Regions from separate parts of the Homo sapiens genome. Here region 2 is reported to be linked to region 1. The links are microRNA targets in miRTarBase. Many come from high-throughput screens and were not tested one by one. Region 1 holds a microRNA gene; the other region holds the end of a gene's coding sequence.

Region 1 (4,197 bases):
TTGCAGTGAGCCAAGATCTCACCACTGCCCTCCAGCCTCAGCGACATAGCCAGGCCCTGTCTCATAAAAATTAAAACAAAATACACAAACAAAAACAACTCCAAAGTGATATAAGAGTGTTCTCTGTGTATAGAAGACTATTTTGTGTGTATGGAATTATACACAGAACATTGTGATGAAATATACTCATTTTTTTTTGAGACCCTGTATAAAAAAAAACCAAAGTTCCATATACTATATGCTCACATAAAGCATAATTCCCACATATTGGTGCTTTGACAGCACACACAAATGAATGGGGTGACAGAGATTTCCATAGCCCCCGCACATAGGTGACACCCAAATTCATAATGGGTCCCATATTCAAAATTAGGAAAAAAGGCTGAGTGCAGTGGCTCATACCTGTAATCCCAGCACTTCGGGAGGCCTACGTCGGCAAATCACCTGAGGTCAGGATTCAAGAATGGCCTGGCTAACATGGTGAAACTGTGTCTAAAATACATATATATATATAGCTGGTATGGGGGTACATGTCTGCAATCCCAGCTACTTGGAAGGCTGAGGTTGCAGTGAGCTGAGATCACACCACTGCAGTCCAGCCTGGGAGACACAGAGAGGCTCTTTCTCCAAAAAAAAAAAAAAGAGAATTGCTTGAGTCCAGGAGGCAGAGGTTGCAGTGAGCCAAGATCACACTAATGTACTCCATCTCGGGTGACAGAGCAAGACTGTCTCAAATAGTCAAAGACAGAAAAAAAGAACAGGTCTCGCTCTCTTCTTGATTGTGTATGGGCTCACTTAAGGTCAGGAGTTGGAGACTGGGCTGGCCAACATGTTGAAACCCTGTCTCTACAAAAAAAAAAAAAACGAACAAACAAAAAAAACACAAAAATTAGCCGGGCGTGGTGGTGTGCGCCTGTGATCCCAGCTACTCGGGAGGATGAGGCAGGAGAATTGCTTGAACGTGGGATTGTGCCACTGACCTCCAGCCTGATGGACGGAGTAAGACTCTGTTTCAAAAATCGATGAGTAAATAAATAAATAATAAAAATACAAAAATTAGCTGGGTATGGTGGCTCATGTCTGCGATCTCAGCTACTAGGGAGGCTGACTCAGGAGAGAATGGCTTGAATCTGGGAGGTGGAGGGTACAGGGAGCGAAGTTCCTGCCACTGCACTCCAGCCTGGGTCACAGAGCAAGACTCCATCTCAAAAAAGAGGACCGCTGGGCACAATGGCCCACGCCTGTAATCCCAGCACTTTGGGAGGCTGAGGTGGGTGGATCTTGAGGTCAGTAGTTTGAGACCAGCCTGGCCAACGTGGTGAAACCCTGTCTCTACTAAAAATACAAAAATTAGCTGGAAGTGGTGGCAGGCACCTGTAGTCCCAGCTACTTGGGAGGCTGGGGCAGAAGAATTGCTTGAACTCAGGAGGTGAGCTTGCACACAAGATCGCGCCATTGCACTCTCGTCTGGGTCACAGAGCAAGACTCCGCCTCAAAAAAAAAAAAAAAAAAAAGAGGACCGTTTGAGCCTAAAAGATCTACGTTGGAAGTGCTACCCTACTCCAGCCTGGGCAAGAGAGACTCTGTCTTAGAAAAAAAAACAAAATAAAAACAGAATCCCACCATCATCCAAGTCTGATGATAAGCATGCTCTGCAAATGTATTACCAAGATCAGCATCAACTTCACTGTTGCTTTCCTCAAACAGTAAACCTCTAAAAGGATGCACTTTCTTTTCTTTCAGACAACAGAAAGCGCTTCCCTCTAGAGGGTCACAGCATGGGATCTTCTTGCTCCAGCACCCTGGGTTTTTTGTAGAAATTTTCCTTGACCAGGTTAAAATAGAGACAAAAATAAAGACCTATTTATTGGCTCTGTTTGCATGTTTTCTGGAATCCAGAACATAGACCCCTAAAAAGACCATCTCCCGTTCCTTCCTACAAAGGCTCAGCAGGTTAGCCTTGTTCATCAAGGGGAAATCCTCCTGAGTTTTGTGTCCAGAAAGAAAAAGCAATGCCTACTATGCATACCTTATATTTAACCAAGAGAATTGGGCTGGATTTCTAGAGAACAGCAGTGGATTTTCAGCCAAGTGTTCACTTGATTTCCAGCACAGGGACACACAGTCCTGATTAGAGCAGTCAAAATGGAATCTACCATGTTGAAGAATATACATTGTTGCACACACAAACATCCTCCAGGATAGACTACAAGGGAGGCCTTAAAAGCTCCTAAAGAAACCCTGTCTCTACTAAAAATACAAAATTAGCCAGGCATGGTGGCGCAGTCCTATAATCCCAGCTACTTGGGAGGCTGAGGCAGAAGAATCACTTGAACCCGGGAGGCGGAGGTTGTGGTGAGCCAAGATTGTGCCACTGCACTTCAGCCTGGGCAACAGAGACCCAGTCTTAGATAAAAAAACAAAAGAAAAACAAAACCCCAACATCATCCAAGTCTGATTATAAGCGTGCTCTGCAAAGATATTACAAAGATCAGCATCAACTACAACGTTGCTTTTCTCAGACAGTAAGCCTCTAAAAGGAAGCACTTTCTCTTCTTTCAGACAACAGAAAGTGCTTCCCTCAAGAGGGTCACAGCCTGACATCTTCTTGCTCTGATGCCGTGGATTTTTTCCTGGAATTTTCTTTGACCAAGTTAAAATAGACACAAAAATAAAGATGCATTTATTGACCCTGTATGCATGTTTTATGGAATCCAGAATATAAAACTCTATAAGGACCATCTCCAGTTCCTTGCTTCAAAGAATCAGCAGGTTAGCCTTGTTCATCAAGGGGCAATCCTCCTGAGTTTTGTCCCCAAAGAGAAAAAGCAATGCCTACTACACGTACCTTTAACCGAGAAAATTGGGCAGGATTTCTGGAGAACAGCAATGGATTTTAAGCCAAGTGTTCACTCGAGTTCCAGTACAGGACCCACAGTCACGAAGGGAGCATCCAAAATGGAGTCTACGATGTTGAAGAATATACACTGTCATATGCACAAACACTCTCCAGAGTAGATCACAGGCTAGGATGTAAAAACTACTCAATAAAATTTGAGCAGAAATACACAAGTACAAGTGGGGCCCAGTGGCTCAGACCTCTAACTCCTCGAACTTTAGGAGGCCCAGGCAGGAGGATCACCTGCCTCAGGAGCTCGAGACCAGCCCCGGCAACATGGCGAGACCCCATGTGTACAAAAATTACAGAAGTTAGCCAGGTGTGGTGGTGCATGCCTGTAGAGACTAATTCAGCAGGCTTAGGTGGGAGGTGGAGGTTGCAGTAAGCCGAGATTGCACCACCACACTCCATCTTGGGTGACAGAGGCAGATATTGTCTCAGAAAAGAACCACACACACACGCACACACACGCACACGCACACACACCCTAGGTGATATCGGAGTATTCTCTGTGTTTAGAAGAGTATTTTGTGTGTACATAATATATAAGAATATAAAATGAAATATACATCATGTATTTTTGAGACCCTGTCTCAAAGAAAGTTCCAAATATTGCATGCTTATAGGAAGAATAATTCCTATACATAACTGCTTGCTTTGGAAGTACACATAAAAAAATTTAAATGACATAGAATATCCTGGCCACTGCACAAAGGCGACACCCAAGTCCATGCTGGTCCCATATTCACCTAATTATTTTTATTTTTATTTATTTATTTATTTAGAGACAGAGTCTCACACTGTTGCCCAGGCAGGAGTGTAACGGTGTGATCTCTGCTCGCTGTAACCTCCGCCTCCCAGATTCATGTGATTCTCCTGCCTCAGCCTCCCGAGTAGCTGGGATTACAGGTGAGTGCCACCACACCCGGCTAATTTTTGTATTTTTAGTAGAGACGGGGTTTCACCATGCTGGCCAGACTGGTCTCGAACAACTGACCTCAGGTGATCCTCCTGTCTCAGCCTCCCAAAGTGCTAGAATTACTGGTGGAAGTCACCATACCCAGACTAGTCCCATATTTAAAATTAGGAAAAAGCAAAAGATGCCCACACCTCAACAGCAATGTTCGAGTACATCTCAAATACATTGCACATCCCATCTGCAAGGGACGCTGAGGTCCCCTTCAATTCTACGTGAACCCACGTGAGGTTCTATAAACCAGTGCCCGAATAATTTCTACGTAGGAAAAGTTGTTGATAGCCGGGCGTGTTGGCTCACACCTGTATTCACAGCACTTTGT
Region 2 (4,197 bases), not on the chromosome of region 1:
AGTGACAGAAATAATCTATGTATTTTTCTCTCAAAGTCCTAGAATCCTACCAGTATTACATCCTGTTTTGTTTGATTGTAAATATTGAAGGCAAATGTTTTATGTCTTTGATTCAATGCTCAGTGAGTTTGAAGGGCCCATTAGCTGACTTTTCTACACAAGCTGCTTTGATTGGCTGCCAGCTGGCCTTTGTCCTGCTTAGACACATGCTATTAAAGGTTGCTATTCTCTCACTGGCACTCTCCCCTTTACAGATCTTAGAAACCAACCATACAGACGAGCCGATGCGGTGAGGAGAAGCGTCAGGCGGCGCTTTGATGATCAGAACTTGCGTTCTGTTAATGGTGCCGAAATAACAATGTGAACCTGAGACTGGCCTGCATGAATACAGGGTGTGCGTGAATGAAACTGCCCACATGAACTTTATGTGCTACGATTTAACTGCAGCCTTGAACACACACAAAAATATTCTTAAGGGCTCAGATTTAGCAAACACGGAAGAATTTTAAAATGAGCTCTCCTTTCAACCCTTGTTAACAAGTGCCTAAAAATGGAAGTACCTGTTCAGATTAATCAAAGCAATAGGATTTGATTTGATTAGGTATCTTTTTACACCAGTATGTTATTTTTAACCAAAATGTAAAGTTCTTATTAAACTCATTACCTGCCATTGTGATTGTCCCATCATGGCCCACCTGGTTTCCTGATGTTGTAAATAACATCAATGCATCTGCTGTGGGTCCTTTGCTGAGATGTCTTCGAAGGAATTTTGTTTTAGCCATATCCATCAACTTTGTATTTTACTTGCAATTTGGAAGAAGGAAAGTCACATGATGAAACTCCTTTTGTCTATAACCAGGCCCTGGCAAAGTGCAAACAGGATGCAACTGCAGTGGCACAAAGGTCACTCAATCCTTTGTTTCCAGTTTCACATTCTACTACTTCTGCGCTAGAGAACGATGCTCTGTGAGAGGCATTCACTAGTATGAATGTGGGGATATAGTGTATAAGACTTATTTGCAGTACTGTGTTCTTCAGCTAGAGGCAGCTTTTTAAATAATGCAAGTGTATTTATTAGCATTAAAATTAACATCTCAGTAATCAGCATTAGCATTTCTGAGGACCATTATTAATTCTGAGAACAGAAATTGGTGCCTTGCAAGGAAGTTTACTAGCTCTATCAACAAGCATTCAAGGTTACATCTGCTAGCAGAGTAGTGTTAGGAACCTGGCCTTACTCTCCTCTGACAATCGCAATTTTTTCTTATTTTTTATAAATTCAAGAAGATACACTTGGCATCGTGTATCGAGGCTAAGTTTTTCATGCATTTCCCAGACTACTTATGGAGAATTGCAGTTTAAGTTGCTGAAAAGTATTAACATGGTATTAAGCTTAAATAATACGTAATGGGACTAGATGGCCCACTAAGCCACTGTTATTTTCCTTCCTCTCTGGCAGGGCACTTGATCCATTCCAAAGTCAAAAACTGGACTGAAGCTAAATTTGTACTTTTCATAATATACATTCTGCTTCTGGCTTATCTTCTTGGTACATCAATATATTAATTGTAAAGTTTATTGTATAGTATTTAACCGCTGAAGTTCCTATTTTATGTTGTGCTTATGTGAACCCCTTGGTGAAGGTCCCTTTTCCTTGGATGTGTAGTTATATGATCTTTTTAAATGTACAGATATTTTGCTATAAAATCGGTGCAGTTTTTTATGGTTTTTACACTTCTCTTTAATTCCCACCTAAGCCTCTGGGTAATATTGTAAATATTGTTTTAAAATGCATCAGCCTATGCTATACAATCTGAATGTTATTTTAACTTATAGTTTTTTTTAATATATATATTTAACTATAAGGACAGTTTAGGGAACAAGTTACCTACCACATTTCACTTTAGTGTACCTATTTACAGAAAGATTAAACTGCCACCTGCGGGCACATTCCCATAAATGTGTACTTTACTTTAAAAAGAACATGCCACGATTTTGTCTTTCTGTGGACTCAACATTCACTTCGATTAAAAATAGCAATTTGACCAAGTTGGACTTCCACTACAAAGCAGCTGTTTTCCAAAGTTCAATGCTGACATATATGTATATTAAAATAATTGCCTATTTATTAATCTACAAATAGACAACGTTGGCATGTTCTTTTCTGTTTGTCTATTAATGGGCCTGCTTCTTAGCAATATTAGAATGTTTTATAAAAGCAATTCATGTTACTTTTCTGGTCTTTTCATGGCATATGAGCAAATAATAAACTATTTACACTACTATTCTGTAATATGTTGTAATCTTTCAATGGTACAATTTAGGGGGTTTTAGCAATATTATGTAGACTTACCTTCTAGAAACAAATATATCTTGCTATTTGAACTCAGAATCCAAATATACTTGGTAAACGTCAGGAAGGATTCCTCCCTATGTGAACTCTTGACCGCTTGCTATATAAAACATAGACAATGGATCTTGGAAGTGAGACTACATCTCCAAAATTGCATTTATAAACATACACCTTCTAGGTAAACAGCACCTTTGTTTGGTGAAATGCCACAACGCCCCCAGCAGCCCCACCAAATGTTACAATTAGGATGTTGTACAAATAAAGATAATAGGCTATATATTAACTGCATAGTTAACCCTGCACCCAATAACCATACCAGTTGGCAAGGCAAACAAGCAGTTTGGCCCCCATTGCACAAACAGTTGTAATAAAACTCCCAGTCATCAAAAGTTTATGTGTAACATTTCATATGTTCTTTTTATGGAAACAAGAAAAATTTTAAATTTTAGAATACCTTTCAAGTGGCTTAAATTTAGAGGCATATATATTATAGTCATTTAAGGAATTATAATTTATATAATTATTGTCACAACTACCACAGCGTACTTTGCATTTGTCACACACAACTGCTTACAGATTAAAGGCAATAATCTTTATTCCTCACAAGAAGCCTGTGAGGTATTTAACACTGTTGTGCACATTGGGAAACTGACTCAGCAAACTGACTTGCCCAGGGTGCAATCTAATAAATGCCTATAATAAAGCCTTAGGTCTTTTGTTCGCAATTCAGTGCACTTTCCACTAAACCAGTTATACAATGTGTTAGAAGCTTTATTTTATGAGAGAAAAAGTCTTGCGATCAGTAAGGATCTCTACTTTTGTTTTACCATCAGACTGGTGCCTAATGGTAAAAGAAAAATCTTTTAATATTCCACAAATTCAGAATGTTTTCAAACTCAACTACAGCAGTTAAGTTCAAATGAGGCAGATAGAGTAACATTCATCTTTCTTTTAAAAGGTATTTACCAATGACTTTGAATTAAATACTCACGTTCCCCACTCCCCATCATCTAACACTGAAATTCACTGCAGTGCCCAGTGGCCATCCTGACTCAACTCTGCTCTCAATAGAATAGGGCTTGATACCCATCACTGACTCTGCTTTGGTTCAACATACTGGAATCTTCTCTGTAGAATAAGGTGATTTTACACTGGAAAATAAATAGATGATACATTTCTTATACTCGCTCCATAATCCACATTTTGTTTGTTAGACAAGGTCTGGCTCTATCACCTAGGATGGAATGCAGTGGTACAATCTCGGCTCAGGGCAACCTCTGCCTCTTGGGCTCAAGCCATCCTCCCACTTCAGCCTCCCGAGTAGCTGGGACTGTAGATACGCACAACCACACCTGGCTAATTTTTCTAGAAATAGGGTTTTGCCGTGTTGCCCAGGCTGGTCTCAAACTCCTGAGCTCAAGTGATCTGCCTGCCTCATCCTCCCCAAGTGTTGGGATTACAGGCACAAACCATTGTGCCCAGCCACACATACCTATTTAATGTTTGATAACTCTTCTTAACCCTAATATATTTCCTAATTTTTATCAGAAATGTCTCCAAAGATGAATTTATCAGATTTCATCAAAAGGATTTGTTTTCCATTTCTTTTTAAACTAACAGCCCATCTATGCCCAAGAAAAATCTGAAGAAACAAACATGTACGTGAAATCAGTGATGGGTTTTTTTTTTTTTTTTAAGTCTTTTTATCAAGAAAAAGAGGAATTACACTGAGAAAACATAACGTGGGCCTCCAGCAACTCTCACAGCATAGAGCTTGCTGCCTGAGTGGTGCTTAAAGGAAAAAACTGACACAAATCCAATTTAGTAAAAGATACCATTTTTTC

Evidence for each region. Region 1 holds the annotated microRNA hsa-miR-526b-3p (GAAAGUGCUUCCUUUUAGAGGC, at 2,530-2,551, opposite strand). A microRNA usually pairs through its seed, bases 2 to 8, with sites in the 3' UTR of a target mRNA and lowers its output. Matches are read on the target gene's strand: a 7mer-m8 pairs with bases 2 to 8, a 7mer-A1 pairs with bases 2 to 7 and ends in A, and an 8mer does both.
Region 2: miRTarBase lists FMNL2 as a target of hsa-miR-526b-3p. Seed matches in the 3' UTR shown: 7mer-A1 at 1,900-1,906.

What each region holds. Positions count from the first base shown.
Region 1 is chr19:53,692,797-53,696,993 of GRCh38, reverse strand. It overlaps MIR526B (microRNA 526b), which reads right to left and starts at 2,601; the gene lies at 2,519-2,601. It overlaps MIR519B (microRNA 519b), which reads right to left and starts at 1,781; the gene lies at 1,701-1,781. It overlaps LOC107985342 (a long non-coding RNA gene), which reads right to left. Exons shown (of 3, transcript XR_007067332.1): 3 at 2,372-2,965.
Region 2 is chr2:152,647,542-152,651,738 of GRCh38, forward strand. FMNL2 (formin like 2) reads left to right here. Exons shown (of 26, transcript NM_052905.4): 26 at 255-2,285. The coding sequence ends at 364. It overlaps PRPF40A (pre-mRNA processing factor 40A), which reads right to left. Exons shown (of 26, transcript NM_001365597.4): 26 at 4,191-4,197. Among named protein-coding and RNA genes, the nearest start is that of PRPF40A, 68 kb to the right of the region's middle.